7 linked regions of the Homo sapiens genome follow. The gene in region 5 interacts genetically with the main gene of each other region. Each region holds a gene or a part of one and is shown on either strand. Other genes may lie near its edges.

The links.
Region 1: changes in ATR (region 5) and RPA1 are lethal when combined (synthetic lethality), as found in Homo sapiens cells (one large-scale study listed by BioGRID).
Region 2: changes in ATR (region 5) and POLH are lethal when combined (synthetic lethality), as found in Homo sapiens cells (one large-scale study listed by BioGRID).
Region 3: changes in ATR (region 5) and CLSPN are lethal when combined (synthetic lethality), as found in Homo sapiens cells (one large-scale study listed by BioGRID).
Region 4: changes in ATR (region 5) and PRIM2 are lethal when combined (synthetic lethality), as found in Homo sapiens cells (one large-scale study listed by BioGRID).
Region 6: changes in ATR (region 5) and POLD2 are lethal when combined (synthetic lethality), as found in Homo sapiens cells (one large-scale study listed by BioGRID).
Region 7: changes in ATR (region 5) and RAD9A are lethal when combined (synthetic lethality), as found in Homo sapiens cells (one large-scale study listed by BioGRID).

Annotation. Positions count from the first base shown.
Region 1 is NC_000017.11:1,875,005-1,878,504, reverse strand, and holds part of RPA1 (replication protein A 70 kDa DNA-binding subunit), read right to left. Parts: intron 2,845-3,500; coding exon 2,712-2,844; intron 1,294-2,711; coding exon 1,191-1,293; intron 1-1,190. UniProt on the Homo sapiens protein: As part of the heterotrimeric replication protein A complex (RPA/RP-A), binds and stabilizes single-stranded DNA intermediates that form during DNA replication or upon DNA stress.
Region 2 is NC_000006.12:43,614,185-43,617,603, forward strand, and holds part of POLH (DNA polymerase eta), read left to right. Parts: coding exon 1-373; 3' UTR 374-3,419. UniProt on the Homo sapiens protein: DNA polymerase specifically involved in the DNA repair by translesion synthesis (TLS). Due to low processivity on both damaged and normal DNA, cooperates with the heterotetrameric (REV3L, REV7, POLD2 and POLD3) POLZ complex for complete bypass of DNA lesions.
Region 3 is NC_000001.11:35,738,979-35,742,478, forward strand, and holds part of CLSPN (claspin), read right to left. Parts: intron 552-3,500; coding exon 387-551; intron 280-386; coding exon 158-279; intron 1-157.
Region 4 is NC_000006.12:57,380,130-57,383,629, reverse strand, and holds part of PRIM2 (DNA primase large subunit), read right to left. Parts: intron 1,600-3,500; coding exon 1,462-1,599; intron 1-1,461. UniProt on the Homo sapiens protein: Regulatory subunit of the DNA primase complex and component of the DNA polymerase alpha complex (also known as the alpha DNA polymerase-primase complex) which play an essential role in the initiation of DNA synthesis.
Region 5 is NC_000003.12:142,554,734-142,558,233, forward strand, and holds part of ATR (serine/threonine-protein kinase ATR), read right to left. Parts: intron 1,843-3,500; coding exon 1,650-1,842; intron 1,407-1,649; coding exon 1,144-1,406; intron 1-1,143. UniProt on the Homo sapiens protein: Serine/threonine protein kinase which activates checkpoint signaling upon genotoxic stresses such as ionizing radiation (IR), ultraviolet light (UV), or DNA replication stalling, thereby acting as a DNA damage sensor.
Region 6 is NC_000007.14:44,114,180-44,117,364, reverse strand, and holds the end of POLD2 (DNA polymerase delta subunit 2), read left to right. Parts: intron 1-117; coding exon 118-232; intron 233-349; coding exon 350-548; intron 549-854; coding exon 855-935; intron 936-1,092; coding exon 1,093-1,250; intron 1,251-1,471; coding exon 1,472-1,599; intron 1,600-1,968; coding exon 1,969-2,070; intron 2,071-2,419; coding exon 2,420-2,580; 3' UTR 2,581-2,685; downstream 2,686-3,185. Other genes in the region: AEBP1 (adipocyte enhancer-binding protein 1 precursor), read right to left, coding at 3,104-3,185. UniProt on the Homo sapiens protein: Accessory component of both the DNA polymerase delta complex and the DNA polymerase zeta complex.
Region 7 is NC_000011.10:67,394,986-67,398,910, forward strand, and holds the end of RAD9A (cell cycle checkpoint control protein RAD9A), read left to right. Parts: intron 1-730; coding exon 731-840; intron 841-926; coding exon 927-1,036; intron 1,037-1,125; coding exon 1,126-1,190; intron 1,191-1,277; coding exon 1,278-1,415; intron 1,416-2,193; coding exon 2,194-2,401; intron 2,402-2,478; coding exon 2,479-2,574; 3' UTR 2,575-3,425; downstream 3,426-3,925. Other genes in the region: PPP1CA (serine/threonine-protein phosphatase PP1-alpha catalytic subunit), read right to left, coding at 3,550-3,660, 3,737-3,871. UniProt on the Homo sapiens protein: Component of the 9-1-1 cell-cycle checkpoint response complex that plays a major role in DNA repair. The 9-1-1 complex is recruited to DNA lesion upon damage by the RAD17-replication factor C (RFC) clamp loader complex.

The sequences.
Region 1 (3,500 bases), on a different chromosome or scaffold from region 5:
GATCTGATTTTCACTTTTGCTTTTCTGTCAGCCAAAATTTACAAGTGGACAAGAAATTTTAGCCAACCACCATACATTAGAGCAATAATTTCTAAAAAAAAATTAGGTTCTAATATTGATTCTGCCATCACACAAACATTTTGGGTGTTATATCAACTTCCAAAAAAAACATCTATTTTTTTCTCCCTATTTGGGAGTCTGAACAAACAGGAAATCTGCAGCACTTTGAAAAGAATGCTGAAGTACATTTTAGGAATTATTATTATTTTTGAGATGGAGTCTCACTCTGTCGCCCAGGCTGGAGTGCAGTGGTGCAATCTTGGCTGGCTCCAACCTCCACCTCCTTGGTTCAGGCGATTGATTCTCCTGCCTCAGCCTCCCAAGTAGCTGGGACTACAGGCACCTGCCACCATACCCAGCTAATTTTTGTATTTTTAGTATAAACGGGGTTTCACTATGTTGGCCAGGCTGGTCTCGAACTCCTGACCTCAAGTGATCTGTGCACCCTGGCCTCCCAAAGTGTTGGGATTACAGGCGTGAGCCACCACACCCGGCAATTTCAGGAATTATTAGCAAAACGAATGGACTGATTAACAGCTATCAAGACTGTCGTACTTCCATGGCATAGGAATTTTGTCTCATCGTCATGGTTTTGTTTAGTTTAAATAAAGCAAATAGAGAATCTGCACAGTCAGAACCCATTTCCCACAAAACCACTCCCATATCGAGGTCACAACTGTGTGCCTTCTGCTGTGTCCCAAAGCTCCACGGCGCTCACAAGCAGGCATCACCTCCCAGTGCTTCCAGTACACCTGCCAGCAAATCAGACTGTTTCCAGCTTCTCCTGCCCAGGAGGCTACTTATATATTTAGAAAACTACTTTCTACTGCTACAAACGCTGTCATTTAAGATCAAAGATTTTATTTATGACCTTAACCCTCTACTCCAGACAGCATCAAAAGACTATGACAGAGGGAAAAGCACAATAACAATCATGCTTCTCTCTGGCCTACTATTATTCTTCACCTCATAGGCCCGCAGAGCTGAGCCTTCTGTTTCTCGGCGAGCCCACTGCCCTCCGCAGAGCTGAGCCTTCTGTTTCCCAGCGAGCCCACTGCCCTCCGCAGAGCTGAGCCTTCTGTTTCCCGGCGAGCCCACTGCCCTCACTCCCCAGCATGACAAACACTCACACTTTCGTCAACCAGTTCTAGGGAGAAAAGCTTCCCTTCCCCTCGGGAGTTGCTCCAGGTACGGATCTGACTTTTGTTGGTAACACGAGCACAAATGGTCCACCTACAAACCAAATCGATCATATTAGTGTATGGGGTCTTCCTTGGAAAAGATCAAGTAAGAAATCATCTTCCTACAGCCTTTCTCGTCTTACGCATATTCCGTTTTCCAACCTGTATTTTAATCCAGCTAATTAAAACCCCAAGATGACACATGGGTTTGACAGTTTACAGAATAAGCAAATAGTAAAACATGCAAAGTGATTTAATACTAACTCATTCTCCTGTCAAATAAGTAAATTTATAAACTCTCTCCCTTCTCCAAAAAGCATCACCAAGGCAACCATATCCCCTTAATGAAAGGTTCTAAGCTGGAAAATACAGTAACACCAGCAATTATATTTTGCCACAGTTTTCAATTATGGGAACTGATATAACTGGTGTTACACTTCTGTCTCATTCGTAACACACCCTGAATAGAATACACGATGTTGGTGGACCATCAGGAAGAACACACTGAAGCAGCATGACCTTAGAGAGAAGCATGGAAAAAGGAGGCACAGGGCACATTAGGTACCCCACTTATAATTTCACAGGGAAAAATATCTTTCCTACGTTACAGAGTATTGAAGAATAAATATAAACATATCTGGAAGGATTCTGAAAAAAGAACTCTAATTTTTAACTATTCAAATTACTTTATTTTGTTTATTTATCTTGAGAGACGGAATCTCACTCTGTTACTCAGGCTGGAAGGCAGTGGCACAATCTTGGCTCACTGCAACCTCCGCCTCCTGGGTTCAAGCGATTCTTCTGCCTCAGCCTCCTGAGTAGCGGGGATTACAGGCGTGCTCCACAACACCTGGCTAATTTTTGTATTTTTAGTAGAGACACGGTTTCACCATGTTGGCCAGGCTGGTCTCAAACTCCCGACCTCAGGTGATCCACCCGCCTCAGCCTCCTAAAGTGCGGGGATTACGGGCATGAGCCACCGCGCCCGGCTTCAAATTAATTTTTGGTGGAAAAAAGTCATATAAAAGAAATTTATGTTCAGGGTATGTTCATGTGTTTAATACAAATAGTGCAGATTATTTTAGCCAACTAAACCAAAGACGAAGTCACCTGTTTATAGGAGAAGATTAAATGCCTTTTGAATTATCAGAAATATTTATTTTTACTCATAAGACTATCAACTGATTAAGCATTAAGTATTTTTAATTTCAAATTCTTTCAAAATGAATGAAACCCCACAGGCTATGGCAGATTGCTATTGTTACTATATTTTCCAACAAGAGTTAAAAGTTTGCCACAATTTGTACCCCTTTCCTCCTCAGCAAAAAAAAAAAAAAAAAAGAGTAAACCCATTCTATTTGGTGGTATTTGGTGGTGACCCTGAAGTTCACGCATAAATAACTCAAGAGTCCATAATAGCTTCTCCGATTTCATAAGTACACTCTGAACTTACTCTATGCAACAACTCACTTGGACTGGTAAGGAGTGAGGCTGGCAATGGGCACCACTTTGGACTGTGTTCCCCCAGAAGTGTGTGACAGGCTGGGACCTGCAGCTTTTCCAAATGTCTTTGAAGCACCATAAGCCTTAGAAACAGTAGAACCTTTAAAAACAAACGCAAACGAAAAGGAGTTATTACTATTCTACTTAGCTTTTTTATAGTAAGCTTTACAATAACTCTAAATTTTGGAGGTGCCACTAGTGAAATCATATAACATGAGAGGCAAAGCTTTTCCTTTTTATATGCAAGAGATACGCAGATCAAATAGAGACTGAGGCTGGAGGCTACAAAAGCAATCTAGGATGAAGGCTGCGCACACAGCAGCTCACTGCTATGTTTGCTGATGTCAGCCCCGAGGTCAAAGTAATAATGGTGACGAATCCAGACACTGCTGTTTCTGAAGGCCGCCCTCTTAAACACTTCTCTTGCCTCAACGGGCAAGATAATGGGTGAGAAAAAGAAAATCAACTTTTGTAACTGGTAAAACTGATGGCAAGGCACTAGTCACATGAAGAAAGACAGGATGTAAGGGACCTATCACAAATAGATCGCCTCCAAATCCCCAGACAACTCCCAGATCTCAATGCGTCTGAAGGACTAGCAAGTCTAGAATGAAGTCTGTAAGAATGAGTTTCGTCGGGTGCAAAGGGCAGGAATCAGTTTTTGGTCAAGATATGTTAAGTGGGTGACCACTAAGACCCTTCCGCCTCCTTAATCCAAACCTAAGCAGCTGCCCTGCGCTGGGAAAGAACAGGGAA
Region 2 (3,419 bases), on a different chromosome or scaffold from region 5:
AACTCCTGCAGAGATGGATTTGGCCCACAACAGCCAAAGCATGCACGCCTCTTCAGCTTCCAAATCTGTGCTGGAGGTGACTCAGAAAGCAACCCCAAATCCAAGTCTTCTAGCTGCTGAGGACCAAGTGCCCTGTGAGAAGTGTGGCTCCCTGGTACCGGTATGGGATATGCCAGAACACATGGACTATCATTTTGCATTGGAGTTGCAGAAATCCTTTTTGCAGCCCCACTCTTCAAACCCCCAGGTTGTTTCTGCCGTATCTCATCAAGGCAAAAGAAATCCCAAGAGCCCTTTGGCCTGCACTAATAAACGCCCCAGGCCTGAGGGCATGCAAACATTGGAATCATTTTTTAAGCCATTAACACATTAGTGCTGCCCTCAGGCTTGCCTGTAGGATTTAATATTTTTTATCTTTACAGATCTTTATCTTTAATATTTTATCTTTACAGATTTCCCTGAGAAAGGGAATTATGAAATTTTTAATACAAAAAATAATCCATTTAGGTGCTGAGTTACGGTCCCATCTCTTCACAGGCATGGATTCTAATCCCACTGCTGACAGAGATGTAAAAATTCATCCTACCAGAGTTTTTAATCTTTAGCATTTAGGGAGGCAGTGTCATAAAGTAAAAAGTGTGTGGGCCTTGGAGTCTAAGAGACGTGGTTGCAAACTTAGCTCTGGTTATTGCAATGAGGGCCTTGAACAAGTCATTTTCTTCACATTCTCATCTGTAAAATGGAGATAATACCTTACAGATTATTGCAGATTAATAACAATGTATTCAAATTATGTAACTCGGCCGGGTACAATGGCTCACGCCTGTAATCCTAACACTTTGGGAGGCCGAGGCAGACAGATCACCTGAGGTCAGGAGTTTGAGACCAGCCTGGCCAACATGGCAAAACCATCTCTACTAAAAATAGAAAAATTAGCCAGGCACGTTCCAGGCACCTGTGATCCCAGCTACTTAGAGGCTGAGGCAGAAGAATTGCTTTAACCTTGGAGGCGGAGGTTGCATTGAGCTGAGATCATGCTAGTGCGCTCCAGCCTGGGCAACAGAGCGAGACTTCATCTCAGAAAATAAAAAATAGGGGCCAGGCACAGTGGCTCATACCTGTAATGCCAGCACTTTGGGAGGCCAAGGCGGGCAGATCACGAGGTCAGGAGTTTCAGACCAATATGGTGAAACCCCATCTCTACTAAAATTACAAAAAAAATTATCCAGGCGTGGTGGTGCACGCCTGTAATCCCAGCTACTCAGGAGGCTAAGGCAGGAGAATCACTTGAACCCAGGAGGCAGAGGTTGGAGTGAGCTGAGATCGCGCCACCGCACTCCAGCCTGGGCAACAGAGCGAGACTCCATCTCAAACAAAAACAAGAACAAAAACAAACATAAAGTTGGCACAGAAAAGGGACCAAGTTTAAAAAAGGGTTTTAAATGTAATGAGACTTGCATAGTTAAAAAAAAAAAAGGGATTATTTTTATTTTTATTTTTTATTTTTGAGACGGAGTCTCCCTCTGTCGTCAGGCTAGAATGCAGTGGTGCGTTCTCAGCTCACCGCAACCTCCGTCTCCTGGGTTCAAGCAATTCTCCTGCCTCAGCCTCCCAAGTAGCTGGGACTACAGGCACGTGCTACCACACTCAGCTAATTTTTGTATTTTTAATAGAGATGAGGTTTCACCATGTTGGCCAGGATGGTCTCGATTGCTTGACCTCATGATCCGCCTGCCTCGACCTCCCAAAGTTGCTGGGATTACAGATGTTAGCCACCGATCCTGGCCCCCCCAAAAAAAGGATTTTAAGAAAAACTTCTCTTGGCCGGGCGCAGTGGCTCACGCCTGCAATCCCAGCACTTTGGGAGGCCGAGGCGGGCGGATCACAAGGTCAGGAGATCGAGACCACGGTGAAACCCCGTCTCTACTAAAAAATACAAAAAAAAATTAGCCGGGTGCGGTGGCAGGCGCCTGTAGTCCCAGCTACTCGGGAGGCTGAGGCAGGAGAATGGTGTGAACCCGGGAGGCGGAGCTTGCAGTGAGCCGAGAGCGCGCCACTGCACTCCAGCCTGGGTGACAGAGCGAGACTCCGTCTCAAAAAAAAAAAAAAAAGAAAAACTTCTCTTTAGGCTGGGTGCGGTTCCTCATGCCTATAATCCCAGCATTTAGGGAGGCTGAGGTGAGTGGATTGCAGGAGCTCAGGAGTTCGAGACCAGCCTGGGCAAGGTGGCAAAACCCCGTCTCTACTAAAAAAAATTAGCTGGGCTTGGTGGCAGGCGCCTGTAATCCCAGGTACTCGGGAGACTGAGGCAGGAGAATTGCTTGAACCTGGAAGGTGGAGGTTGCAGTGAGTTGAGATCACACCAATGCACTCCAGCCAGGGTGAGAGTGAGAGACTGTCTCAAAAAAAAAAAAAACAAAAGAAAAACTTCTCTCTAGCTCTGTGACGGGCAGTTCAGATAATACCTTCACCAGATTTACCTGTTTTCAGCTGAAGAATGTGAGATGAAGCCTTGAAACCCTAAAAGTGATATGGTAACTAGGGCAGGTCTTTCTGTACATAAAAGTGACTTAATAAACAGTGAATTTCATACAGGTAAACCCTATTATACCCTCAGTTCTAACCATTGGCCTATCTCTTGCGTTTTGTTCTAATGTAGAATTAGATTGCTACTTGACTAGTTCAGGAACTCTGTTTAGATCTGATAAGTCATAATCAAATCTTGCCAGGCGTGGTGGTTTATGCCTGTTATCCCAGCACTTTGGGAGGCCAAGGCAGGTGGACCACGTGAAGTCAGGAGTTCAAGACAAGCATGGCCAACATGGCGAAACCCTGTATCTACTAAAAATACAAAAATTAGCCGGGCATGGTGGTGGGTGCGTGTAATCCCAGCTAGTTGGGAGGCTGAGGCAGGAGAATCACTTGAACCTGGGAGGCAGAGGTTGCAGTGAGCCGAGATTTCCACTGCATTCCAGCCTGGGCGATAGAGTAACTCTGTCTCAAAAAAACCCACTAGATCATCTCTAGAACATTGCTACTCCCAAGTATGATTTGAGGAACAGCAGCCTCAGTATCACCAGGGAACTTATTAGAAATAGTCTCAGCCTCACCACTATTCCCACTTAATTGTAATCTGATATTAACAAGATTTCCCAATGTGGGTCAGGTGTGGTGGCTCATGCCTGTAATCCCACACTTTGGGAGGCCAAGGTGGGCGGATCACTTGAGGCTGGGAGTTTGAGACCAGGCTGGCCAACATGGGGAAAACCCATCTCTACAAAAAATAACAAAAATTAGGTGTGTGTGGTGACGCATGCGTGTAATCCCAGCTACTTAGGAGGCTGAGGCAGGAGAATCACTTGAATCTGGGAGGCAGAGGTTGTAGTGAGCTGAGATTGTGCCACTGCACTCCAGTCTGG
Region 3 (3,500 bases), on a different chromosome or scaffold from region 5:
TTAGTAGGGACGGGGTTTCACCATGTTGTTCAGGCTGGTCCTGAACTCCTGACCTTGTGATCCACCTGCCTCTGCCTCCCAAAGTGTTGGGATTACAGGCGTGAGCCACCATGCTCAGCCCGTAACTGATTGCTTTTAAAGACAACAACCAAGATACCTATGTTTTTCCATCGAAACTTCCTCATTCGCCCAGGACCATCGCTGTGCAGATCCCCATCAGCAAGGTACCTCTCTTGGTATAAACGTAGCTGTCGCTTATCATCATCCAACATAGTTTTCCTGCAACAGGAGAAATAAGGTGTTCAAAACAAGGACCATTCTGGCTGGTTACAGGGCTTGTCTTAAGATGTACCCTATTACTCAGAAGGGCTTATTGGGATACTGACATGTGTATTTTCTTGATTTGACTCTGCAGTTCCTCATCAGAAGGAAGTACTTCATCAATTACGTCCTCTTCATATTCATCAATTTCTTCCCCATCATACTCATCTTCGCTTCCCACATCACTTCCTGACACCTCTGCCTCATCCTCCAGGTATTTCCTCAACCTCCTAGAAAGCAATTTTGAGGATTAGAAAATGCAACAATGAATATACTCACAGAATATGGAAGCAAAGAAAAGCAGAACAGAGTCACTTCTAATAATAATAAACATAATACATTTGATAATATTTAAATTTTTTTGTAATAGTCTCCACTTATGATGGTTTGACTTAATGATTTTTCAACTTTACGATGACATGAATGTGATACGCACTTAGTATGCTTCTCGATTTACGATGGAGTTATATCTGGATAATATGAAAGTGCATTTTCAACTTATGATGGATTGATCAGGATATAGTCCCATTGTAAGATGTGGAGCATCTGTATTTAAAAGTTGATCACTTAATATGTCTTGTGTGCTAATAACTGTGCTTTACAGGCATTAACATATTATCATAGGAATGGGTACTATTATTCTCTTCATTTTACAGTTGAGGGAATTGAGCCTCAGAAAGATTACATTTACCCAAGGTCACATAGCTAGAAGGTAGCAGAGCCTGGATTCAACTTAGATTGGGTGATTTGAAAGCCAGAAAACTCTTAATCTCTTTTACATGTATTAGAATACCTGCTGGAAGGTTCAAACTATTTCATTTTGCATTTGAGCACACCAGCTTTAAGAGACAAACTAGAGATGGTGTGGTGTAGAAAGGTAATAAACTGGGATCTTCTTACAGCCTAACAAATCTTGACCCCCACATCAGAAGGAAGACTAAGGCTCAGAGCTCCTGGTAATCAAAACGACTAGTTACTTCTTATGACTTCAGCTCCCCCGGAGAATAAATCTGGTGTCACCCTGGATTCAAAGTCACCTTGGTCCCATGTGGTCCAAAATGGCAGAAGTTTGGTGGCTTTCTGAAAACTGATTTTTATCGAAGACCTATACTGTATTTTCTCTTTTTTTTTTTTTTTGAGATGAAGTGTCGCTCTGTCGCCTAGGCTGGAGTGCAGAGATGCCATCTCGGCTCACTGCAACCTCCACCTCCTGGGTTCAAGTGATTCTCATGCCTCAACCTCCCGAGTAGCTGGGATTACAGGTGCGTGCCACCATGCCTGGCTAATTTTTGTTTTTTTAGTAGAGATAGGGTTTCACCATGTTGGCCAGGGTGGTCTTGAACTCCTGACCTCAGGGGATCTGTCCATCTCAGCCTCCCAAAGTGCTGGGATTACAGGCATGAGCCACCACGCCCAGCCTATACTGTATTTTCTTAAAGCTAAGTTGTTCTAAATCCTAGAGTTCCTGGAAAATTCCTTCAGAGGCCACTAGTCACTAAGTTTCCCAAACTTCCCACTTACCATCTTTGAACAGTTCAACTTTTATCTGTCATTCTTTAAAAGATTTTATTTGAACAAAGAGCTCTGCAGAGAAGAACCACTACCTTAGAAAAATCTATGGATAACCTAAAGCTGTATGAGAGTTAATTTGATAGGTGATAAATTAGAACCCAAAGTGAATCTTAATAGAATGAAATGATGGGATAAAAGCAACCATATAAATCTAATAGGGATCAATATGATGTCCTATATGTGAATTCCAAATCATTCACATACAATATAATATTAAATACCTATTAGAATTATCTTTATAAAACTTTTTTTAACATCATAGGAAAATGTTTCTGGATATGCTAAGTAGAAAAAAAAAGATGCAAAATTATACATATAGAAAGATTGTACAAATCTCAACTATATAAAAATATATGCATAAAAAAGATTAAGGGGAACAAACTAACTTTCATTTATATCCTGGATGGTGGACATGGATAAGTTTTTATTTATATCTTTCTGTATTCTTTTTTTGCGGGGGTCGGGGAGAATGGAGTTTCTCTCGTCGCCCAGGCTGGAATGCAATGGCACAATCTCAGCTCACTGCACCCTCCACCTCCCGGTTCAAGCGATTCTCCAGCTTTGCCTCCTGAGTAGCTGGGATTACAGGCACTGGCCATCACGCTTGGCTAATTTTGTATTTTTAGTAGAGACGGGGTCTCGCCATGTTGGCCAGGCTGGTCTCGAACTCCTGACCTCAGGTGATCCACCCGCCTCAGCTTCCCAAAGTGCTGAGATTATAGGCGTGGGCCACTGCACCCAGTTTGTATTCTTTTAAATATCCTAAAATAAATATTTTACTTTCATGACCAGAACAGCATATCAAAAAAATGAGTTGGGCCGGCCAGGTGGGGTGGCTCACGCCTGTAATCCCAGCATGTTGGAAGGCCAAGGCGGGTGGATCGTGAGGTCAAGAGATCGAGACCATCCTGACCAACATGGTGAAACCCCGTCTCTACTAAATATACAAAAATTAGCTGGGTGTGGTGGCACGTGCCTATATTCCCAGCTACTCAGGAGGCTGAAGCAGGAGAATCGCTTTGAACCCGGGAGGCGGAGGTTGCAGTGAGCCGAGATCATGCCACTGCCCTCCAGCCTGGGCGACAGAGCGAGACTCCGTCTCAAAAAAAAAAAAAAAAAAAAAAAAAAAAGCTGGGCCTGGTGGCTCATGCCTGTAATCCCAGACTTTGGGAAGCAGAGGCAGGAGGATCACTTGAGGCCAACAGTTTAAGACCAGCCTGGGAACAAAGCAAGGCCCCATCTCTACAAAAAATAGAAAGAATTAGCCAGGTGTGGTGGCACATGCCTGTTGTCCCAGCTACTTGGGAAGCTGAGGCAGGAGGATTTAAGTTAAAAAGTGGCAAACTATTAACTGACTGTTAGGGGAGATTTCACCTAATCTAAGTTGAATCCAGCCTCTGCTGCCTTCTAGCTATGTGATCTTGGGTAAATTTAATCTTTCTGAGGCTCAGTTCCTTCAACTGTAAAATGAGGAGAATAATAGTACCCACTCATAAGATAATTTTTTTGAGATGGAGTCTTGCTCTATCACCCAGGCTGGAGTGCAGTGGGGCAATCTTGGCTCACTGCAACCTCCGCCTCCCATATTCAAGCAATTCTCCTGCCTC
Region 4 (3,500 bases), on a different chromosome or scaffold from region 5:
GAGGGGGGAAAAAAAGACTACTTCATCCCACATGCCTTTTTTTTTTTTTTTTTTTAGCAAGAAAAACTTTTTTCAGGAGCCCCCAAAGAACTCATACTTTTTAGCCACAATGACATTGTCACAGGCATAAATTAAAAATTTGGTAAGAAGGAAATGACTATGATCAGATTAATAGTAGCATTAACATGCCAGAAGTTTTCTGAAATGCACGGTGATATTTTTGGTTGTCATGGAGACTGGGGTCCACCACCAGCATTTAATAGATGACAGCTAAAACTATCCAATATGCTGGAAAATATTTGTCTATTTCACACAAAGAAGTGTGGTCTAAAATGTCAACAGAGAGAATATGGGTGAATAAAACTAAGAATAATAAAAGAGCAATGGCCAAACAGTAGACAAGTATCAGTGTCTTCCACAGTGGTGAAAGACACTATTCTTAGCTGTAACTAGAATATAATCTAGGGTAGTGACAGACAAGTAAAGAAAAAATTTAAAAGCATCAACTTTCATGAGGATAAAGAAATAACAGGATTAGGAATGGAGAAAGAATATTAACAGTTACTAAATACCTGTTATGCTAGGTGTTCTCATAAATTCCTTCATTTAATAAACACAGAGTTAGTATTTTAGTCTTCCCAAGTGCTGACATAGCTAAATTATACATATTTAGGTAACCCCAGAGAGTCAATAAAAATTTATTTATATCAGAAAATACTACAATTTTTAACTGAGAAGGAAAGCTTGGCATATGCTTACACTATAATCAGTACAGTTTAAAACAGCCATGTCACAAACCTTTGAAGTCTTCTTCTGCATTAGGTACAAAAAAAGTATTAAAAACTGACTCAGATTAAGAGACAACAACTGTAAAATATGTGTTTTACATATAAAAATGTGTATAGTTTTAAGATATCACCACTTAAGAGTCACACTTCCAACAAACTACTTAAAAATCACTGATCATGTCATTTGTTCAACACAGCTACCTCCAAATTCACCCAGTATGGAGCTACTCATTGCAGCACTAGCATATCACAGTGTTAGTACTTAAGATTTTCTTCTATATTGTCTTCTACTGATACCAAATACTAATTCAGAACAGAAATCTAGGAGTTATATCTACCACAGGCCACACTAATTGTTAAGAGCCATATACGAAGTCTATTTCTAAGGAAAAAAGACATGACCATGAAGAAACCCACAGAGGTTACTCACAAAATTAATCACTCAGCATTGGTATTAGTAGGATCAAGAAAAAAAACTTAAAAACCAACTATGGATAGTAACAAATAAAAACCTAGGAATTTTGGGATTAACAGTACAACATCATATGTAATCTGAATATCATTATGAAAACTGAATTAACTTATTTCCTAGAGAAACACAGAATAAAACTACCAGGGGTATATAACTGAAAGTGTGAACATGTCAGATACAGAAATCAAGTAAAATACTCACTGCCAAAGCCTTGGACAGTTTGGCTCTAAATTCATTCAGGATGATTGCCACAATGTCCTTAAGTGGTACGTAAGCAAAGCCATCTTCCAAATAGACTTTCCTTCCTCGAAACAAATCCAGAGCATCAGCAAAAGGGATCTGAATTAAGAGTAAAACAGGCAAAATAAGTCAGCACCTGTCATTAAGAAATCCTAAGTCTTCATATGTATAAAGTATAAACAAAGAAATTCATTAGTCCTAGCAGAGCCAAAAGAATATCAAAATGATTAATTTATCCTCCTTAAAACTCAACAGCATTAGCAAACAGTGGCAGTACAAAAATATGTTCGTTTCAGAGTTGATGTTTTGAAAAATAGTAACACTAAAAGGCCAAGTTGGAATGCTTACTTTTATTCCTTAACCTCTGAATTTACAAAACATAATCCCCAGGATTTCAAACTCTTAACTCAAGACTTCTACACATGTTGCATTCACCTCACATATCCCACTTTGTATTCTGCATCAGAGAGAATCCTAATTTGTAAACAACATATTCAGAGCTGAAAATTACTTGTAAGTAAATTCCAATTTCTTCATGTATGTTTCCATTCTCACTCCAGAGAAATATACTGAAAAAGCTAATCTCAGTACTAAGAAATGGAAATAATAAGCATTCAGTTTTGCTATTAAAAGAAGTATTTGCCCCAAGAATTTATTTTTAAAAATCTTAGATTTTTAAACCCTATGAACAATCTTAAAATTCTAAGAGATGAGCGAAGTATGATATTAGTAAACTGTAAAAATCATTCTTACTCTCCAATAGAATTTTTCTTTTTTAAAAAACGAGGTTAAAAAATTAGGTGAAAAATGATTCCCAAATTGCCTATTCATTCAAGTTTTAAGGAAGAATTAAATATAAATGCATACAATTTTCTGTATATCCAACGACATCTCACACTATAAACAGATCATGTGCTTTTTAACAACTTTCAATTAATTTACCTATTTCTACAACTGCAACACAGTCCCTGCCCTCATGGGCACACACGGAAAGTCAAACAGACCTACAGGGTAAATTGTGTGATACTGCACCAAATAGGTAGCTTACATAGGACATATCAGATGAGCAGGTAAGAGGGTTTACTGCAATAATATAGGGAAGAAACATGAGTTCTAGTCCAAGCTCTGATACTGACTAGACTTATTTGGTGAATTTAATGAATGCCTCTAAATCTCAGCAGCCAGATCTGTAAAGCTGAGAGAGGGGAGGAAGACACAGGCTAACTGACCCTTAGGGATTCTTTAGCCATAGTATTTCATGATTCTAGCTTATTAAGGTGGTCACAGTGGAAACAAAAATGCCCAAGTAGAAGCAAAAGATGATGTGAAGGCAGAGTAACTGGAAATGTGTGGTGTAAGAGAAATAAATATTGATCACCACACTCTAGGCTTGAAAGGCTGACTGAATGATGGCCCAACAGTCGAAACGAAGAAGCTGGAATGGGGCAGGACTTTAAACTACTGGCACTCACTCATAATAATTAGCACATTCTTTTCAAAGGAAATTGTGGGGTTGCAGTTATCAAATTGTAAAATGAATTTAAACTCTTCCCTCTTCCCCTTCTGGAAGGGTTCATGTGACGTAGTTATCTGAACTGAGTGGGGAGGGGAAACTGAGGTGGCCAAGCACAGGATGATGGAATCTGAGTAGGTTAAGGAGGGCATTCCCATAGGAAAAAACGTAGGCTTACAATGTCAGAGCCCAGTGGAATCACAGAGAGACCATGAGGCAAGACACCACGATGTCAGAGGTCAAGAGAAGCGAAAGGGGGCTTCCACGCAAGGCAGCAATCCAAACAGAGTGTTGGGCCAAATGGGTGATGAGGGTTTCCTGGCAGGGGATAGCCCAGTGCAGGGTGTAAGAACCCAAACAATGCAAGGAGGGTATTCCATTAGGAAAACAGCCTGTAATGGGAGGTCAGAGCCCAAGCAGGGTTGGGAATGCGTCCGTGGAAGGAGACAGCCCAGGAGAGAACATTGGCACACCATTAGTGCAATGA
Region 5 (3,500 bases):
GCAACAAAGTGAGATCCCTCTCTACAAAAAATTTAAAAATTAGCTGGGTGTAGTGGCACATACTATGGTTCCAGCTACTCAAGAGGCTGAGGTGGGAGGATCACTTGAGCCTGGGAGATCAAGGATGCAGACTGCAGTGAGCCATGATTGCGCCACTGCACTCTAGCCTGGGTGACAGAGCAAGACCCTGTCTCTTAAAAAAAAAAAAAGAAAGAAGAAAGGCCGGGCATGGTGGCTCATGCCTGTAACCCCAGCACTTTGGGGGGACAGAGTGGGTAGATTACCTGAGGTCAGGAGTTGGAGACTAGCCTGACCAACATGGTGAAACCCTGTCTCTACTAAAAATGCAAAAATTTGCCAGGCCTGGTGGCACACGCCTGTAATCCCAGCTACTCCGGAGGCTGGGGCAGGAGAATCGTCTGAACCCAGGAGGCAGAGGTTGCAGTGAGCCAAGATGGCGCCATTGTACTTCAGCCTGGGCAACAAGAGCAAAACTCCGTCTCGGGGAAAAAAAAAAAAAGAAAAAAAGAAAAGCACATTTCTCAAGGGGATCTTAGCTTTATTGTTAACCTTACATTACAAGATTTAGGGAGTACTTTCTATTGCTTTCAATAGAAAGTTTCTATTGAAACTTCAGAACAAGTTTCAACTTACTACCTAAACAAATGGATCTTCTAAGTATTTGTATAAATCTCATACTTCATAAAAATTTATACTCCATTACCACTGGAAAGTGGCCAAGAAGATACACTCTATAGTCCTCAGTTGGGCAAAGTAATTTAACTATTTGAAGTTCTCAAGGTCCAAGGTTGTAACAGGGGGCACATTAAGACGATCTCTGGTATCACTAAAGAAGATAATCTAATATTGAATCTTACAATATTGAAACAACCATCAGGTATGCCCCATTTAGGCTGTCAAATCACAAGAGTATTCGAAAAATCCCAAAATCACCTCTCCTACCAGTTTTGTGATGCGATCTAATACCAGTTATCCCATTTATAACTAATCAATACTGAGCACTGAATCTATAAAGCATGTAACTTCCTGTAATTTTTCAAGGCTTCAGTCTAATTCTTTTACTGATTTGAAAAGCAGAGCTTAAATAGGTTTTAAAGTATTAAATAAGTCATAATCACTCACCAAGTTTTACTGGACTAGGTATTTTTTTTTTCAGTAGGAAAAGGAATGGCTTGCAGACAGAAGCTTTTAGTTGAGAAGATGAACATTCATGTTGAGAAGTGGCTTTCAAGTTCCTACAGAAGAGGTCCACATGTCCGTGTTCAGAGAAAGGTTCTGTTAAAGAACTTGTCAGATAAAACATGCCGTGAAGAGTACAGACAAGTTGACCAAGTATAGAAGCAAATTCTTTCTTGACAATGTCAGAATCATCTTTGACTTTATCTCTGGGGAAAAAAAAGAAAAAGTACTAAACTTTCTTGCCTAATTTTGTGGTCTAAATAGTCTTGCTTAATTTGGGACAAAAGTACTGGTAAAACAAAGCCTAGAAGGAAAAAATGTTAAATTCTAAAACTAAAAGCAACATTTGCTTTACATATTCAACAATAAACACAACCCTGCATACATAGCCAGACAATTATGATCTTTCCAATAGAGTGATATATTCAAATTAAAATCTTAGTACATACATAAGAATCTTGGGAACTCTGTTACAAGAATTCTGCTGCTGCAATAAGATAAAAAATCCACTAACACAACTAGCCCGGATTACTTCATGGGAGCTCTGCAGGGCCCAGTTGTAAACTGCTGTTCTCCACTCAAGGAATATTCTTCTTGGAAACAGAGTCAGAAGAAACACACATCGTGATTGTGCCTGTGGTGCTGAAAAAATTAAGTCTATTAAACAAGATTTCTACTAATGTTAATTTTATGTATACACATATACATATATATAAGTAAAGTAACATTTGTGTATACATATATATAAATAAAAGTCAAGTAACACTTAAAATACATTTAATACCTAATTTAATTAAAAGCTCCTTTTCAGAAAATAAAGCAAGTGCACTGAAAAAGGTCTATACACAACCTTACTAAATAATCAAGGAAATGCAAATTGAAAATCATACCTACCAGATAGGAAAAAGAAAAAATTTAAGATACTTAACTCCATGACATTTTTTATTTTCTAGATAGCAAAAATTTTAAAGTCAGCTAAGTGTCAGTGAGGATGTGGAACTCATACTCTGCTAACAGGAGTGTAAACTGGTGTATCTTTGGAGAACAATACAGCAGAATAGAGGTGAAGATGTGCAAACTCTATAACCCAACAATACTACTCCTAGGTAGGTAAAAACGTTAAAATAATGCTTCTCAAACTTTAATATGGATATGAATCACCTATCTTGTTAAAATGCAGATTCTGATCAGTAGGTCTGGGTGGAGCATAAGATTCCCCATTTCTTTCTTTCTCTCTCTTTTTTTTTAATGTGCTCTTTCAGCAGAATCAAAGACGCTCCATTTCTAACAAGTCCCTAAATGGTGGCGATGCTACTGGTCTGTGGAGCATACTTTTCAAACAGCAAGGACTTAGAATGACTAAAGAATCATTTATAAAAATATTCATTTAAATGTTGCTTGTAATTGTGAAAAGTTGGAAACAACTTGATTGTCCACCAATAGGAGGTCTGATAGTGTCCATCCAAATTTGGCTACTATTTGGAAGTTTAAATAAAAACTAGAGTTACCCATATCACCATGGATAAGTCTCATAAAGATAGTGTTGATCAACAAAATGTAAGCTGTAAGAAGCAAAACAATTTCTTATATTATTTATAAATAAATACATATATAGTAAAAGTAATAGAACATTCAACAGAACAATCAACACCAAATTCAGAACAGTAGTAATCTCTGGGGAAAAAAATGAGGGGAATGAAATCATAGAGGGACAAAGGCTTCCATCATATCTCTAATAGCCCAGGCTGGAGTGCAGGGGTGCAATCTTGGCTCACTGAAACCTCTGCCTCCTGGGTTCAAGAGATTCTTGTATCTCAGCCTCCCTAGTAGCTGGGACTACAGGCGTGAGCCACCATGCCTGGCTAATTTTTGTATTTTTAGAAGAGATGAGGTTTTGCCATGTTGGCCAGGCTGGTCTCAAGCTCCTGACCTCAAGAGATCCGCATGCCTTGGCCTCCCAAAGTGCTGGGATTACAGGCGTGAGCCACCGTGCCTGGCCTAATGTTTCTATTTCTTAAACTGAGAAGTTGGTATAAGAATTTTTGGTATATTGTTCTTCTTTTTAAAATATTTCTCAAATACTTCCTAATTTTATTAAATGAAGATAATGATATGTAAGGACACATTGCAAATGTTTTACAAAAAGAAAGGAAATGGGATATGTGGGGCAGGCTTTTATGTGTTACTTTTTATGTATCTAACCCCCTTCTGAACTATTAAAAATGTACCTGCTCTTTTAATTATTGAAAAAAATATAAATAAGTCTTAGAAGTCCTATATAGAGATGAGTTAAAACAAAC
Region 6 (3,185 bases), on a different chromosome or scaffold from region 5:
AGGTGAGAATTCACCAATGTGGTTGTGGAGAACTGGCTTGTTTTGCCCGTTGGGGTGACTGGAAGGAGTGGTAGCACCTGGGGCTCCCTGCTCAGGCCTGATGCCACTGCTCCCCAGGGACTGTCCTGGCTGTGTTTGGCTCCGTGAGAGACGACGGGAAGTTTCTGGTGGAGGACTATTGCTTTGCTGACCTTGCTCCCCAGAAGCCCGCACCCCCACTTGACACAGATAGGTGAGCAGCAGTTCTCGGGAGCTGGAACCAGCTCATGGTCAGTGGAATCTTTGAGTTGCACCTAGGAGGGGCTGCCTCCCTTCTCGGCACCCTGGAGGACCCCACCTTCTCCCGCAGGTTTGTGCTACTGGTGTCCGGCCTGGGCCTGGGTGGCGGTGGAGGCGAGAGCCTGCTGGGCACCCAGCTGCTGGTGGATGTGGTGACGGGGCAGCTTGGGGACGAAGGGGAGCAGTGCAGCGCCGCCCACGTCTCCCGGGTTATCCTCGCTGGCAACCTCCTCAGCCACAGCACCCAGAGCAGGGATTCTATCAATAAGGTATGGAGCCCACCTGGCTGCATTCAGCCCCAGCCCAGGAGCCTGCAAGCCTGTAAGACCCTCCTTCCCCAGGGCGAGTAGGGTACCCTGTGAGGTCTCGCAGGTCGGTGGGAAGCGCCCTGCAGTGACTCTGGGGCCTCCTGCAATGGGGCTCCTCATGCCCAGGCCCTCGCTGAGGATGGTGGGAGGCTTGAAGGGAGTGAGGGTCTATGGGACAACAACTGCATCTTCCAGCTGGTGGGGCTCTACTCTCCTCTGAGCCTGGGACTCGCCTGGGCCTGATGGCCTTCTGGGCTTCTATTCCAGGCCAAATACCTCACCAAGAAAACCCAGGCAGCCAGCGTGGAGGCTGTTAAGATGCTGGATGAGATCCTCCTGCAGCTGAGCGTGAGCGAGCTGGGGGCTGGAGGGGTGATGGGGATTGCAGTCTTCAAAGCTGCCACTGGGCAACAGAAGGCAGGCAGGAGGGCAGGGGGAGTGGCCGGAGTTGGTGTAGGGGGCTCCTTCGGGGCCCTGTGAGCTCTCCCTGCCCTGTGCCTTCCAGGCCTCAGTGCCCGTGGACGTGATGCCAGGCGAGTTTGATCCCACCAATTACACGCTCCCCCAGCAGCCCCTCCACCCCTGCATGTTCCCGCTGGCCACTGCCTACTCCACGCTCCAGCTGGTCACCAACCCCTACCAGGCCACCATTGATGGAGTCAGGTAGCTGGCACAGCCACACTTCAGTCTGACCCAGCCTTTTGCCTCAGGAGGCACAAAGAAGGGAGGGGAGGGAGGGCCCAGGAAGGTGGCAGGGCTGCAGAGGCCCACCTAGCATCTGTTCCTTCTCTCTGGGGCATCCCCACAAGAGCGCCAGATGAGCTCTGGGCTGACCACTATGGGTGGCACCCAAAGCCAAGAGTCAGCTGAGCTTTGCCTTGCAGATTTTTGGGGACATCAGGACAGAACGTGAGTGACATTTTCCGATACAGCAGCATGGAGGATCACTTGGAGATCCTGGAGTGGACCCTGCGGGTCCGTCACATCAGCCCCACAGCCCCTGACACTCTAGGTAACAGGCTCAGCCATACAGGGTGGGAGCAGAGGGCCAGGAGGCCTGGCAGGACCCTGAAGTGCACAGGGTCCCCCTGTGGGTTTGCACTTGCCAGCATTGCTGAGAACTGTCTGAGGAGAAGTTCAGAGGCTTGGCACCTGCTCTGGAAGCTACTCTGGAATCTTAATTCTAAGGCCAATGGCTGCCCACCCCAACGGGCAGCAACAGCAGGGCCAAGGTCTTGTGACAATGTCTGGAGGTGCCCCTATTGTCACACTGGGGGTCTCCTACTGGCCTGCAATGGGAGGAGGGGCTGCAGCCCCACATCCTGTGCAGAGTGCTAGTGCTGAGGCGGAACCCTCCTCAGAGCTGCCCCTTCTCCTCCAGGTTGTTACCCCTTCTACAAAACTGACCCGTTCATCTTCCCAGAGTGCCCGCATGTCTACTTTTGTGGCAACACCCCCAGCTTTGGCTCCAAAATCATCCGAGGTAATTTTTGTCTTCTGGGGGCCCAGGCTGATTTGCTGATTTGCTCTCACCTGGGGACAAGGTTCACAGAGAAGAAAACCTGCATTGTGGAGTCCCCCTGGCCCTTGTGGGATGGACAGCTGAGGTCTTCTGCACAGCTGCCATTTCACTGTGGGAGCCAAGCTGCCTCGCCAGCTGGGCAGGGACTGGAACGGCTCCCAGCCTGTGTGCCTCTCAAGGCTAATCTCTGGTCTCCTATTGTCACTGCCCCACTGTGTGCCAATGGGGACTCCTGTTTATTTCTGGCAGCTTCTCTTTGAGGCAGGACTTACTTGGAACCTACAGTGGGTCCTATGTGACTTCTTTGCAGGTCCTGAGGACCAGACAGTGCTGTTGGTGACTGTCCCTGACTTCAGTGCCACGCAGACCGCCTGCCTTGTGAACCTGCGCAGCCTGGCCTGCCAGCCCATCAGCTTCTCGGGCTTCGGGGCAGAGGACGATGACCTGGGAGGCCTGGGGCTGGGCCCCTGACTCAAAAAAGTGGTTTTGACCAGAGAGGCCCAGATGGAGGCTGTTCATTCCCTGCAGTGTCGGCATTGTAAATAAAGCCTGAGCACTTGCTGATGCGAGCCTTGAGCCCTGGGCACTCTGGCTATGGGACTCCTGCAGGGGTGCCCACAGTGACCATAGCCCATGCACCCACCAGCCGGTCTCCCTCCTCCCCATCCCTGACACCTCAGAATGTGAGCAGTCCGTGCCATGAGCTTGTTTTATTGGAGTGACCTTGGCTCCCTCCCTCTGCCCCTACTCCAACACTGCAGCAACCCCATCTCTTACGAGACTGGCAGGTGGAGCAGGAGCCTCTACACAGCCTCTGGCTCTTAGGTCCCAGTCATGTTTGCACCCCCTCAAAGGGGCAGGACCAGCCCTTCCTTTCAGTGTCCATACCAGGGGCCTTCCATGTGCTGATGGGTGATGTGACTGTGGTCAGCAGGCTTGGGAAGTGCTGCTGCTGTAGCTTGAGTTGGGCTGGGGTCTTGGTAGGACGCTGATCTCAGAAGTCCCCAAAGTTCACTGTGTAGGTCTCTACTGTTGTGAAGGGGAATGCCTGGCCAGTGGCTATCTCCTCCTCTTTC
Region 7 (3,925 bases), on a different chromosome or scaffold from region 5:
CTGGAGTGCAGTGGTGCAATCTTGGCTCACTGCAATCTCTGCCTCCCGGGTTCAAGCGATTCTCCTGCCTCAGCCTCCCGAGTAGCTGGGATTACAGGCATGCACCACCACGCCCGGCTAATTTATATATGTTTAGTAGAGACGAGGTTTCACCATGTTGGCCAAGCTGGTCTCGAACTCCTGAACTCAAGTGATCCACTGCTTCGGCCTCCCAAAGTGCTGGGATTACAGGCATGAGCCACTGTTTTTTTTTAAATCCTTGCGCAGGGGCCTTGCTCATCTTTTGCATGCTTCAGTTTTAGTGTATGTGCTGCCGAAGCAAGCACTCTGTCTCATGAATAATTTCAAATATATGTAAAAGCAGACGCAGCTCCCGTCCCCACTTGACTTGAAACAATTTCCAGATGTGATTTCATCTGTATGTCAATGGGTATCCTTAGAGGATAAGGATTTCAGGGCTCTTTCTGAAGGCCGGGTTTGTAGGGTGGCCTGAGTGCCACGTCCTGCCTCTGGGCCCTCTCCCTGGTCTGCATGGTCAGGTGCCGCCTGCCAGGTTTGAGCAACCACTGCAACCAGTCCCCTCCCTGCCACCTTCTCTGGGCCTCATCCACGGTGCGCTAGGCCTGCGCACATCCGTGCGTGTGCATGTGTCACCCCCACCTCAGGTCCTCCGAGAGCAAAGCCCTGGGCAGGGCCAGGCATTTCGGGTAATGCTCCACCCTGTTCACAGGGTTCTGGGGGAGGCTGTTCTGCCCTTCTCTCCTGCACTGGCTGAAGTGACGCTGGGCATTGGCCGTGGCCGCAGGGTCATCCTGCGCAGCTACCACGAGGAGGAGGCAGGTGAGGGGGCTGGACGTGGCCTGGGACAGCAGAGTGGCAGGTGGGAGAGGGGCGGGGCCCAGGTTACTCCTGTTCTTCCCCAACAGACAGCACTGCCAAAGCCATGGTGACTGAGATGTGCCTTGGAGAGGAGGATTTCCAGCAGCTGCAGGCCCAGGAAGGGGTGGCCATCACTTTCTGCCTCAAGGAATTCCGGGTGAGGTTCCTCCCAGGCGCTCGCCGTCCTGTCCTCCCTGCCCAGCTCAGCCCAGCCCGGGGCCTCACCTGCTACCTCTTTCCTCCCAGGGGCTCCTGAGCTTTGCAGAGTCAGCAAACTTGAATCTTAGCATTCATTTTGATGCTCCAGGCAGGTAGTTCCCAGCCTTGGGACAGGGAAGGGCTCTGGGATGGCAGGAGCTGAATGGGATGACCTAGCTTGGGCCCCCTCCCCTGCCCAGGCCCGCCATCTTCACCATCAAGGACTCTTTGCTGGACGGCCACTTTGTCTTGGCCACACTCTCAGACACCGACTCGCACTCCCAGGACCTGGGCTCCCCAGAGCGTCACCAGCCAGTGCCTCAGCTCCAGGCTCACAGGTGAGGGCACCTCCCCCCAACTCCTCCTCTCTCCATGTCTGTGCACTCCAGCCTGAGACTGCAACTCCTAGCTTCTGCACCTCCCCGCAATGTGTTCTCTCCCGCCCCTTCTCTTTCTATCAGGCCCCAGCCCCTAACCCTATAGTGCTCACAGCTGCCAGCCCTGCAGACTCAGCCTTCTCGGTTAGCTGTACTCAGAGACCCCTCCCACCCAGGGAAGCATCCCCAAGGCCCTGCCAGCTTCCTTCTCTGGCTGAGGCCGCCCCTCTGAGCCTCCTCCCAGGCCAAGGAGGGAAAGGGCTGCTGGGAGGCAGGAGCTGCCTGGGCTGGGGGAAGCAGGTGGCTGGAAGGGCAGGTGGGCTGGGGAGGATGGCCCAGTGCACTTTCAGCACAGGAAGTTGGGGCTGGCCCCCAGCCCAGCCTGTCCCTGGGCTCCTGTGCTTTCCAGCTCCTGTCCCCTGGGAAGGTGGGGGCTTGGGCTCCATGTGGCCCAGTTCATAAGACTTGCTGCTCCTCCCTCCTAGCTGAGCTAAGGTAGCCCCCGGGATGCCTCCCTCAGGCCCCTACCTGAATTCTGATCAAAGAGATTCCTGGCCCACCCCCTCCAGGAAGTCACCACTTAACCCCTGCATCCTCTCCTCTCCAGCCAAATCAGGAAGTCATAAAACCAAGAGATCTCCAGTGGTCGGGGGCCCCAGAGCTCCCTTCGAGCCCTCCAAGGTGGGGCCCTGCCTCTGCTCCCCCAGTCCCCTCCCTGATACTCCGATTCTGCCTACAGCACACCCCACCCGGACGACTTTGCCAATGACGACATTGACTCTTACATGATCGCCATGGAAACCACTATAGGCAATGAGGGCTCGCGGGTGCTGCCCTCCATTTCCCTTTCACCTGGCCCCCAGCCCCCCAAGAGCCCCGGTCCCCACTCCGAGGAGGAAGATGAGGCTGAGCCCAGTACAGTGCCTGGGACTCCCCCACCCAAGAAGGTAGGGACTGGAGGTGGAGGCAGGGGTGGGAGGTAGGGAAGGGAGCAGCCTCCAGAACTCACTTGTTCTCTTTCCAGTTCCGCTCACTGTTCTTCGGCTCCATCCTGGCCCCTGTACGCTCCCCCCAGGGCCCCAGCCCTGTGCTGGCGGAAGACAGTGAGGGTGAAGGCTGAACCAAGAACCTGAAGCCTGTACCCAGAGGCCTTGGACTAGACGAAGCCCCAGCCAGTGGCAGAACTGGGTCTCTCAGCCCTGGGGATCAGAAAGGTGGGCTTGCTGGAGCTGAGCTGTTTCACTGCCTCTCGCAGGCCCCAGCTGGCTGTCACTGTAAAGCTGTCCCACAGCGGTCGGGCCTGGGCCGTTATCTCCCCACAACCCCCAGCCAATCAGGACTTTCCAGACTTGGCCCTGAACTACTGACGTTCCTACCTCTTATTTCTCATTGAGCCTCAGGCTATACTCCAGCTGGCCAAGGCTGGAAACCTGTCTCCCTCAGGCTCACCTTCCTAAGGAAAATGTCATAGTAGGTGCTGCTGGCCCCTGGTGATCCAGCTTCTCTGCCAATCATGACCTGTTCCTTCCTGAAGTCCTGGGCATGCATCTGGGACCCCCGTGGAGCTGACAAGTTTTCCTTGCTTTCCTGATACTCTTTGGCGCTGACTTGGAATTCTAAGAGCCTTGGACCCGAGTGTGTGGCTAGGGTTGCCCTGGCTGGGGCCCGGTGCCGAGACTCCCAAGCGGCTCTGTGCAGAAGAGCTGCCAGGCAGTGTCTTAGATGTGAGACGGAGGCCATGGCGAGAATCCAGCTTTGACCTTTATTCAAGAGACCAGATGGGTTGCCCCAGGATCCGGCTGCCAGCCCTGAGGCCAAGCACGGCTGGAGACCCACGACCTGGCCTGCCGTTGCCCTGAGCTGCAGCCTCGGCCCCAGGATCCTGCTCACAGTCACCGCAGGTGCAGGCAGGAAGCAGCCCTGGGGGACTGGACGCTGCTATTGATTCATTAAAAAAAGAAAAGAAAAATACACCAAGGCTCCATGTTCCCCGTGACAGGTGGGCCTGAGGGGTCGGGGTGACCCCCCCCCAGCATGGCAGCATGATTTCTGTACAATCAATCCATCATCTGGGGCACAGGGTGGTGTGCGGGGGCTATTTCTTGGCTTTGGCGGAATTGCGGGGTGGGGTGATGGGTCGGCCTCCAGGGTTCAGGCCACTGAACTGCCCGTACTTCCCCTTGTTCTTGTCGGCGGGCTTGAGGATCTAAAAGAGACAGTGTTGGTCAGGCTCATGGGGCTGAGCCACAGGGCCTAGCGGCTCCTTTCTTCCCCACACTCACCTGGAAAGAGCACATGAGGGTCTCGTCCACACTCATCATGGCGCCAGCATTGTCAAACTCGCCACAGTAGTTGGGAGCTGAGAAAAGTGTCACCAGCTGCCGCTTGGCAAAGAACTCGTAGCCGTCTTCTACCACCTGGGCGAGGATGGGAGCAGTCAGTCCCGAGCGCAGGCACGGCCCTCCCCTTCC